2 separate regions of the Homo sapiens genome follow, and region 2 is linked to region 1. The links come from fine-mapping of genetic effects on gene expression. Tissue or cell type: whole blood. Region 1 holds a variant in brackets; the other region holds the start of a gene. All regions are shown on one strand. Distances are from middle to middle.

Evidence for each region. PIP is the estimated chance that this variant, and not a neighbour inherited with it, causes the effect.
Region 2: RNF175 starts here. The variant in region 1 is fine-mapped to the expression of RNF175 in whole blood (TOPMed, PIP 0.98).

What each region holds. Positions count from the first base shown.
Region 1 is chr4:153,874,014-153,879,162 of GRCh38, reverse strand. All of the region lies in intron 3 of LOC101927947 (a long non-coding RNA gene), which reads right to left. Among named protein-coding and RNA genes, the nearest start is that of SFRP2, 88 kb to the right of the region's middle. The variant T/C (reference allele first, on the strand shown) is at 2,145.
Region 2 is chr4:153,757,948-153,763,096 of GRCh38, reverse strand. RNF175 (ring finger protein 175) reads left to right here and starts at 3,073. Exons shown (of 9, transcript NM_173662.4): 1 at 3,073-3,300. The coding sequence starts at 3,235.

The sequences.
Region 1 (5,149 bases):
ACTAGGCCCAAATTTTCTAGCCAACTTAAGTAGAAAGGGAATTTTATAAGAAGTTATAAAATGGCTTGCCAAGTAAATGAGAAACTTGAAAAGACAGACTTAAGGCTAAGCTTCCAGGAATGACAGAACCAGGCCACCAAGGAAGCCAATACCTCTGCCACGACCAAAATGCTGTAAAATCAGGAAGACTCCAGGTGAAATTGGAAACCATCACTTTAGATAGTGGACACAGAACCATGCCACCTTTGTCACAATCCACTCCAGCAAAATGTATCTTCTATCCTCTGCCTCCCAATAGCCATGAAGCCAGGAATAAGGCACTGGAGCCTCTACTACAGTTACTACAGAAAAATCAAATACTTTCATGGCCATTCCTTGCCACGAAAGAAACAGAAATATGAGTCTGGTCTCATGAGGTTTCATTTTATTTCCATTTTCCAAACCTCATACAGGTACCTCTAATTGAATGAACCTAAATTACATCCAGAACTCTGGAAAATGGAAAATGTAGGGATGCTGAGTTTATGCTAATGAGGTGACTCAGGGTGGGGCCCCCTAGATAGCCTTGGAATGCGGCTGATCACCAGAATGACCAAGTAATTAGAGGGTTGGAACTTTCAGTCCCACCTCCCAATCTCCAGGAAGGCGAAGGGTGGGCATGCACTTAAACTCCATACAAATTTGAATAACATGATTAGATGGGCTTCTGGTCTGCCAAAGAAGCCCGTGGAATTGCTGTGAGGTAGCACATCCTGGAGACAGCCTGGAAGCTCTACTGCCCTATCCATACTTTGCCCTCTACATCCTTTATAATTAATCAGTAAATGTAAGTGGAGTGTTTCTCTGAGTTCTCGTGAGCCATTCTAGCAAACTATTGAAGCAAGGAAGGGGTCATGGGAATCCCCAATATACAGCCAGTCAATCAGAAGTCCTGGATTTGCAATTGGCATCTGAAGTGGGAAAAGTCCTGTGGCACTGAGCCCTTAAGCTGTGAGGTCTGCACTAATTCCAGACAGATAATGTCAGAATTGAATTGAACTGTGGGACACCCAGCTGGTGTTGGTGAGGGAAAAACTTGCACATCTGGTGTCAGAAGTGTTCTGTGAGAGAGTATGGAGAAACACTCTACAGTATGCAGTTTTCTCAGAGGATGTAAGTCACTCCTTAACTTAGAAACTTCCTAAGCAACATGACCCTCCTGCTTTCTCTTCCTCCTTAGATGTGGAGTGGGGGTTATGAGTTGAGGTCCAGGGCCAGAATAGAGAAGCAATTTCAATCCTATGGAACCACAAGAAGAAAGCTTTCTTGGAGGGTTTCTTGGAGAATTCTGTGTTCTGCCTAACAGAATTTTGTTTAATCAAGAAATAATTCTTTGTGTGTTAAGCCTCTGAGGTTAGTAAATACAAAATGTTATAATTTTGTCTATCTTGACACAGATATGGATATGCAGTTGTAAAATGCTGATGTTTAAAAAAAAACTTAAAATAGGTGACATTCGTGGTTAGGCAGCAGGCAGTAGAAAACTGATATGAGAAGCTTTAAAGATAATCACTGTTGTCACCTTTGGTAACTGTTGCCTGCAGTAATCAGGGAAGTAGACCACGTACTTAATGCACTTGGTGGCCTAAGGGGGAACAGGTTAGAAAACAGAAACTTAGTAATGTGTGTTAGTTGTTATTGATTGTGATTGACAAGAAATTACAAGAAATAAATGTATTCAAGAAGGAATTGCCTGGTTTGCAAATAAGCCTTTCAGAAATGCAGGTGGTGTTGCAAAGATAGAAAAGTCTACAGTTTTTTCAATCCCAGATTTTCTTCTCCCAGAAATAGAGAAGGATTTTGAGAGTCAAGGGCCCACAGTGACACAAAGTAAAGACCAGCCTAAGAGTATGGTACTTTGTAGAACCCTTCAGAAAAAAAAAAAAGGAAAAGAAAAGAAACTCAGAGCAAAAATTAGTGCCTTAAGGATGTGGCCTTCTCATCCATTTCCCAGCTGGTGACCACTGTTACACAAAGAGAGAGAGATGGGGTATTTGTGAAAAGCAAAAAAGTCAAGTACATTTGAAAGTCATGGCTCAAAAAACTTAGATAGTGTTACTCTCTTATACAACTGACTAGAAGTAAATAGATGCTAATTAAGTAAG[T/C]GATAGGTGCTGAATGAGAGTGAGAATGTATTTTTTAATGTTATAAACAGGAAGCACAATAATTAACCTAACCTTTTCATGGATTCTATGTCCAGAGCAGCAGTTCTCTATTTCACCCAAGTTGAATGCTTAAGTGATTACAATTTCTCCTTTTATGCAGAGAATGAATAAATCATCAGTGTGCAGTTATCCACCCTCCCCTCCCCTATGACAAGGACTGAGCTACTATGTCTCCTGCACCTCTGATTAGCGTGTGTGAAATAGAAATGTAAATACTATACTTCAGATATATTATGAGTAAAATAGGCCTCATCAACTGGCCAAAGACCTCAGACTCAATGTATAACATTGCTTCTGCTGGGCGCAGTGGCTCACGCCTTGTAATCCCAACACTTTGGGAGGCTGAGGTGGGCGGATCACTTGAGGTCAGGAATTTGAGACCAGCCTGGCCAACATGGTGACACCCTGTCTCTACTAAAAATACAAAAATAAGCCAGGCATGGTGGTGGGTGCCTGTAATCCCAGCTACTCGGGAGGCTAAGGCAGGAGAATCACTTGAACCCGGGAGGCAGAGGTTGCAGTGAGCCAAGATCATGCCATTGCACTCCAGCCTGGGCAACAGGAGCGAAACTCCATCTCAAAAAAAAAAAAAAAAAAAGCAAAAACAAACAAACAAAAAAAACATTGCTTCCAAGTGAAAATGTACACTGAGAACCAAACATCGACCTGCAACAAATTTTGCAAATTAAGTCTTTTGGAATCTGTGCCTATTCTAGCTTTCCAGCTAGAAAAGAGGGCAGAGAGAAGAGGTGAGGGACAGGTGCAATCTGATGGTTCAGACAGAAGAAAGGAGTCCCTTCCTACTGATAGGAGCCACAGGAAGCTAGACAGGAGTCAGGACAAACATGACATATGCAGAAACTGGTGGTTAAACTGATGCATTTATGAAGTAACTTGGTTTTGAAAATGTGGCAAAATACATAGGAAGGCAAGCGAGTCTCCATCTCATCCAAATCTGGGAACCATAGACACATCGCCTTTTGTGCAAGAGTTAGAGCAAGACCCTTTCTCAGGGACAAATTAAAAAGTTTGATGGTCTCATAGAGAGGATGTTACTTGGAATCTTTACTGTTCAACTCACTGAGTCTCTCTTAGTCCTGCTGACACTTTAAATCAATGCTTCTAATAGAAATACAGTGCAAATCTCAAAGGTAACTTTAATTTCCTAGTTGCCATATTTTAAAAAGTCAAAAGAAACAGACAAAATTAATTTTAATAATATGTCTTATTTAACTCAATATATCCAAAATATTATTTCAAGACATAAGTAACATAAATATTAATATTTTATATTCTATTTTTCATATCTCTTCGCTCTCACTGGCTGTGATGCTCTAGAGTTTAGAGAAAAGCCCTAAAAGAATTGAGAGCTTTTGAGAAGCAGAAATTGGAATATATATCTTAAATGTGTCTCAAAAAACATGTTTTCAACATTTGAAAAGGGCTTCTCGTAGTTTTATTCAAATGTTGACTGACATGAGTCAATGTATACATCCAAATCAAAGTGATTAAACAAAATATAACCAAAATAGTGCATATCATATGACTCCATATACAAAACACAACACAGGTAAAACTAATCTATGCTATTAGGAAGAGGACAGTGGCCACCCTCGGGGAGGGGTATGACTTAAAGGAACACAAAAGGGCTTCTAGGGTATTGGTGATATTCTATGGCTTTATCCAAATGCTGGTTAGATGAGTGAGTTCAGTATTAAACATTTATCAAGCTGTTCACTTGTGATATGTGATAACTTAGTGCATATATGTATGTGTGTGTCTGTATATGCACATATGTATGTATAGACATATACACACATATATATATTTATAACACACAAGTATACCTTGGAGATATTGCAGGTTAAGTTCCAGACCACTGCAAAAAAAGTGAATATTGCAAATATTTTGGGTCACACAAACATTTTGGTTTCCCAGTGCATATAAAAGTTATGTTTATACTGTATACTGTAGCCTACTAAGTGTGCAATAGCATTATGCCTGAAAAAAACAAAGTACATACCTTAATTTTAAAATACTTTATTGCTAAAACATAAAAGCCAATTATCATCTGAGTCTTCAGTGAATCATAATCATTTTGCCAGTTTCACTTCCATATTAAAGGCTGATGGCCGATCAGGGTAGTAGTTGTTGAAGGTTGGAGTGGCTGTGGCAATTTCTTAAAATAAGGTAACAATAAAGTTTGCTTCATCAATTGACTCTCACAAAAGATTTCTCCACAGCATGTGGTGCTGTTTGATAGTAATTTGCCTACAGTAGAACTTCTTTCAAAATTAGAGTCAATCTTCTCAAACCCTGCTGCTGCTTTATCAACTAAGTTTATGTAATATTCTAAATCCTTTATCAACTAAGTTTATGTAATATTCTAAATCCTTTGTTGTCATTTCAACAACGTTCACAGCATCTTCACCAGAAATAGATTCCATCTCAAGAAACCACATTTTTTGCTCATCTATTCAAGTTTTATCATGAGATTGCAGCAATTTAGCCATATCTTAGGCTCCACTACTAATTCTAGCTCTCTTGCTATCTCACCACATCTGCAGTGACTATCTCCACTGAAGTCTTGAACCCCTCAAAGTCATCCAGGAGGGTTGGAATCAACTTCTCCCAAGCTCCTGCTAATGTTGATATTTTGACCTCCTCCCGTGAATCATGAATGTTCTCAATGGCATCTCAAATGGTGAATCCTTTCCAGAGGTTTTCTATTTATTTTGCCCAGATCCATTGAGGAGTCACTATCTGTGGCAGCTATAGCCTGACAAAATGTATTTCCTAGATGATAAGATTTTAAAGTTGGAATTACTCCTTGATCTGTGGGCTGCAGAATGGATGCTGTGTTAGCAAGCACTAAAACAACAGGAATTTCCTTTACATCACTATCAGTGTCCTTGGGTGACCTTGTGCATTGTCAATGAACAGGA
Region 2 (5,149 bases), 120 kb after region 1:
CACCAGTTTTGTGCTGGTATGGTATAATTTTTTTTTCTTATGGATAAACCAGTTACTAAATAATCTATTTTTTTCTGCTGATTTGCTACTCCTCTCATGAAACTAGTTTTCCATAAATGTATGTGCCCATTCTGTTCCTTGAGTCTGTTGATTCCTGCACCAAATATGACAATCAACTGACTAGTGATTCTTGACCCCACCTTGTTTCTCAAACACATTTACCACATTAGCTAATTTCTTCCATTACATCATTACAACCACCTCAGGACTCTACATTGCGGGACATGAAGAAGGATGCACAGACTACAGATAAAATGCTGAAGAGATTAGTGTTAAGCAGCAGAATACAGTTCATCTATTCCAGGACAGAAGACAGAGTCAGCCGCCAACCATTTGATTTGGAAAACAAAATTTCAAATTAATTAACCTTGTTTCAGTGAACTACTCCAGAGAGCATTGCCTAACTGACTGGGAAATTAAATATTCATTCTGAATATCTGCAATTTGATCATAGAAGAAACCAGGTATAAGAGGAGGATAGATTAGAGCAAAGCCATCGTTACTGATGGGGAAGAAATGCACTTTTTGAGTTTTATTCTGATATGATTGCTGAGCTGAAGCCAGAAGGAAGATGATACCTTTGTGCATACATGGGTCTCCAGTGAAGTATGTGGGTCTTTTTGGTGCCAATCAATCAGGAGAGAGAGTTTCAAATCTGGGACCTGAGACTTATATAACAATAACAGGTCAGAATTTTATAGAAAGGGAACATCTATCTCCATATGGACTATTTTCATTTTATTATTTTGCTGCCTTGGGAGAATCTAGATGAATGTGAGGATATCCTGGGCTGGAGAGAAAAAATGGCTCTTGCCACATGAAGGCAGGCCACAAGATAGGTAGAGAAGTAACATGTCCAAATGAACCCACTATTTTTGTGTCCCCAAATCTGCTGCTCTTTCAATGTTCCCATTCTCAGCAATGGCAGCACTGTCTGCCCAAATGCTAGACTGCCCAAGCCACATGCCTGGGCACCATCCTTGGAGATGAGTCAAGTACAGTAGATTCTATTACCTAGATCTCCCATCCCCAAACACATCTCTCCATCTCCCCTCCACTCTGTCCCCGCACACACTCTCACCACCAAGGCCACTGTCATCCTTAGAGCTGAAACTACAGCAATAGCTTTCTGGCTGGTCTCTCTGTCTTGAGTCATAGTCATAGCCCTCTTCCCCACTCTTGAAGCCAAAAGGCAAGTCTGGTAATGTCATTTTCTTGCTTAAAACTCGGTAATGGCTTCTCATTCTCCTGAGGCTACAGTCCAAACTGTTTAATATGATTTATGTGGATCTGGCCCTTGCTGACCTTCGCAGCTACTTCCTTGAGAGATTAAGAACCCAGACCATGAAGTCAGTTTTGTCTGGGTTCAAATTCCCACTGCCCCACCTATTAGCTTCAAAACTTGAACAAACTTCTGGACCTCTCTGTGCTTCAGTGTTCTCCCGTGTAAAACACGGACGGTCACAATGCCCACCTCACAGGATTGTCAGGAAGACTGAATGAGCTAACACAGGTAGAGTGCTCAGGACGGCACCTGGCACACGGTAAGCATTCTATCAATGTTAACCATGATTTTTATTTCTCCAATTCATTATGCCTTCTCCAGCATTCCGGCCCTTGCATCCACTGTTCTCTCCATCTCAGACACTCTTTCCAACACACTCTGATCATGCTACAAGGTAGTCTTCAGATGTAGGTAACAGCCCCAGCGGCACCTGAAAACTTGTTCAAAAGACAAATGCTCAGGCTCCACCCTAGACCTACTATATTAAAAACTCTAGGGCTCAACTCCAGCAATCTGAAGATTTTTGTTTTGTTTTTTGATAGAGTCTCGCTCTGTTGTCCAGGCAGAAGTGCAGTGGTTCCATCACGGCTTACTGCAGCCTGAACCTCCCGGGCTCCGGCGATCCTCCAGCCTCAACCTCCTGAGTAGCTGGGGCTACAGGTGTACCACGCCCAGCTCACTTTTGTATATTTTATAGAGATGGGGCTTCACCATGTTGCCTAGGCTGGTCTCAAACTCCTAGGTTCAAGCAATCCGCCCGCCCTGTCCTCCCAAAGTGCTGGGATTAAAGGCATCAGCCACTGTGCTTGGCCAGCACTCTGAGTTTTAACAAACTCAGCATTCCTCCATAGGATTCTGATGCCCAGTTAAGGCTGGAAAACCAAGGCACCATCCGTGATAAATTGTACTTAGATGCTTATTTTTCTCTATCCCCTGTTAGGCTCTACGTTCCACAATGGCAGAGAAATGTCCATCTTGGTCTGTTCACCTCCTTTGTAGGTGTTGACAAATACGAGCCATCACAAACTGGAAAGGGGTAAGCTGTATTTCGTAGGACACATCATCTAATTCTGTGCTCCTCTTTTCTGTTTCCCCAAATCAACACCCAGGTATTTCTAAAGGCTTGCCTAAACGTTCCAGCTTGTTCTCAACCTTGAAGCCAGGCTTAGGCCTAAGTTGTAAAGGCGGGAGGGGAGACCCTGGAGGTAGAGGGGCAAAGGCAAGATGCTTGCGTCGCAGGGGCCCTGCATGGCCTGGAGCAGCATAGGGGCCAAGATGGTCTGCGCTCTCCCTAGATTGGAGTTTCTCTCCTTCATCATCTTTGGAGGAAGCACAGATAACTGAGGAAAGTCTGTATCTGCACAGCCACCCGAACTCCTGCCTCCTAATAAACACCTCTGAGGGAGAGGAAACTCTCTCTCTCTCTTCTCTTCCTCCCCAGCACCCCTCGCCCCCCCACCGCCATTTCTCACTCCTCTACTCCCCTCTCTCTCCCTACCCACCTCTGACCCCTCCTCCAGTCCTGCCGCCCGGTAACAAAACCGGGGTTCCCGCCACACGCACCCGGTAGGGCTCAAGACGCTTTATCGGCGACAATGGCTGGCTGAATGGGAGGCCTGAGGTTCTGAAGGAACCGGGGTGCTGGCGACCGGGACCTCGAGGCCGCTGCTGGGGAGGACGCTGGCCAGCGTGCAGGGGGCGGAGGCGGGGCGTGCCGGGAGGCTCCCATCTCCCGCCCCGCACAACCCGGGCAGGGCCGCCGCTCCGCCGCCGCCGCAGATCCGGCTCTCACCCTCGGCTCCCGAGGCCCCGCGGCGCCTCCTTCTGCGGACTCTGCGGGACCCTCCCCGGCAGGCGCTGTGCCCTGGAGAAGGCACAGTGGCTCAGGCATGGCCGCGGGGACGGCGGCGCGGAAGGCAGCGCCGGTGCTGGAGGCCCCCCCGCAGCAGGAGCAGGTACTGGCGCGGGGGCGCGGGCGTGGGGGACGCCAGGCCGGGGTCCCGGGGCTCACGCTGGTGCCGGGCAGGCTGCACAGACTGGTCTCCAAGACCCCGGGCCCCACCGGGGAGAACCGGCCCTGGAAAGACGTGGGGACGGACGCATGACCTTCTGGAAGATGCCACCGTGCGGGGTGCCAGTCCCTCCTCCACTCCCTCCCTCCCCACTTCTGTGCCCTCCCCGCTACCTTCCTTTCCTCCTTCTGATCCTCTTCCTTCGCTCCATCCCTCTTCTCGCATCCTCGCACTTTCTCTTCCAGGCTCACCCCTTCCACTCCCGCCCTCCTTTGTGACCGCCTGTGCCCTCCTCCCTCCTCGGCGGAAGCCCCCAGAGCCCAGGGTCAAGGTCGTAAGCTGCGAGAGAGGGGAAGGGGTGTACTGCAGGCTTTTGGCTAGACCGCCCTGGTTCTCAAACTCGAGTGTCATCAGAATCACTCGGAGGGCCTGTTACCACGCAGACTGCTGGTCTGTGCCCAGGGTTTCTGATTCAAGATGTGTACCCTGATCGTCAGCTTGTCTTGCCTGGTGCTCAACCTAGCCCATTTCTGCTTCTGCTGGCGTCAATTGCAAACCCAATCTTAATTTATTCTTCGTTCATAGGACAATTCTTCTTAGGCTACATCCAGGTACCAGGAGGATTTGGGGGTGGAGGAGGGTAGGTCTTACCTGGAGGAACCCAAATCCCATCCGTAAAACGAGGACAAAAATAACTCTTAAGGGCAAAGATAACTCTTAAACAACAACAAAAATCACTCACAGAGCGGGTAGGAAGAGATTAATGTCCCAAAATAGGTTCAGGCAAAGAACTGTAGGATTTCTGAGAAGGGCTTGCTCCTGACTAACCCCCTTCTCCTCCAACCCGTGAGGGCGTGGCATTCGAGCTGGGTGTTGGGGAATGGACAGGATCTGACCTCATGGGCCAGAGAATTCTAGATGGAGGGAACAACAGTACCAAATGGCTTGGAGATTTTTTTTTTTTTAATATTGGGATGGATGGCCATGGGACAAGGCAGAGAGAGGGGACTGTCCACTCTGACTGCCAGAAACCTAGGGGTCAGGAATGCTTATAGCAAAAAATAAGGGTGGGCTAGGCTGTGGAGGGGCTTGTGTACCACAAAATGGGGAAACTTAAAATGAAACTCCATGACTTTCTTGCTGGTTTCAAACCCAGATTATCGAAAGGGAGGTTCTGAATTGATGAATGCATGCCAGGAGTGTCAGAGGATCTAGTACTGGTGGATTTGCTGCTGATCTTTGCTCTTCCTTAAGGCTGGCATCACTGCCTAGTCTGCTGCCCTCAGGAGGTATGGCCTCTCTGTTGAGGCTGCCCTAGGAGGGACTCACAGCTTTTCCCTTAATCCCATATGGCAAGACAGTGTGGTCCAGGAACCAGCAGCCAAGGCATTACCTGGGAGCCTGTTAAAAATGCAGTCTCAGTTCCCACGCCAGACCCACTGAATTGAAATCCGCATTTTAACCAGATCCCAGGGTGATTCATTTGCACATCAAAGTTCAAGAAGTGCTGGTTTCTTGACTTTACTAGAGCTAGGGATAAGAAAGTGAAAACAGAGATAGTTACTGACCAGCCTATTATCTGATAGCTTCCCTTTGGTTTGAACCTCACCCTATTTTATTTTCCTTCATCACCCTTATCACTACCTGAAGTATGTCTATGTGTGTATTTGATTGTCTAAGAACCTCCTTCAGCATGAAAGCTCCAGCAGAAAAGCCATGTGGTCTGCCTTGCTCGCTCCTGTATTTCCAGGACCTAGAACAGTCTCAGCAAACGGCAGGGCCTCAATAAATA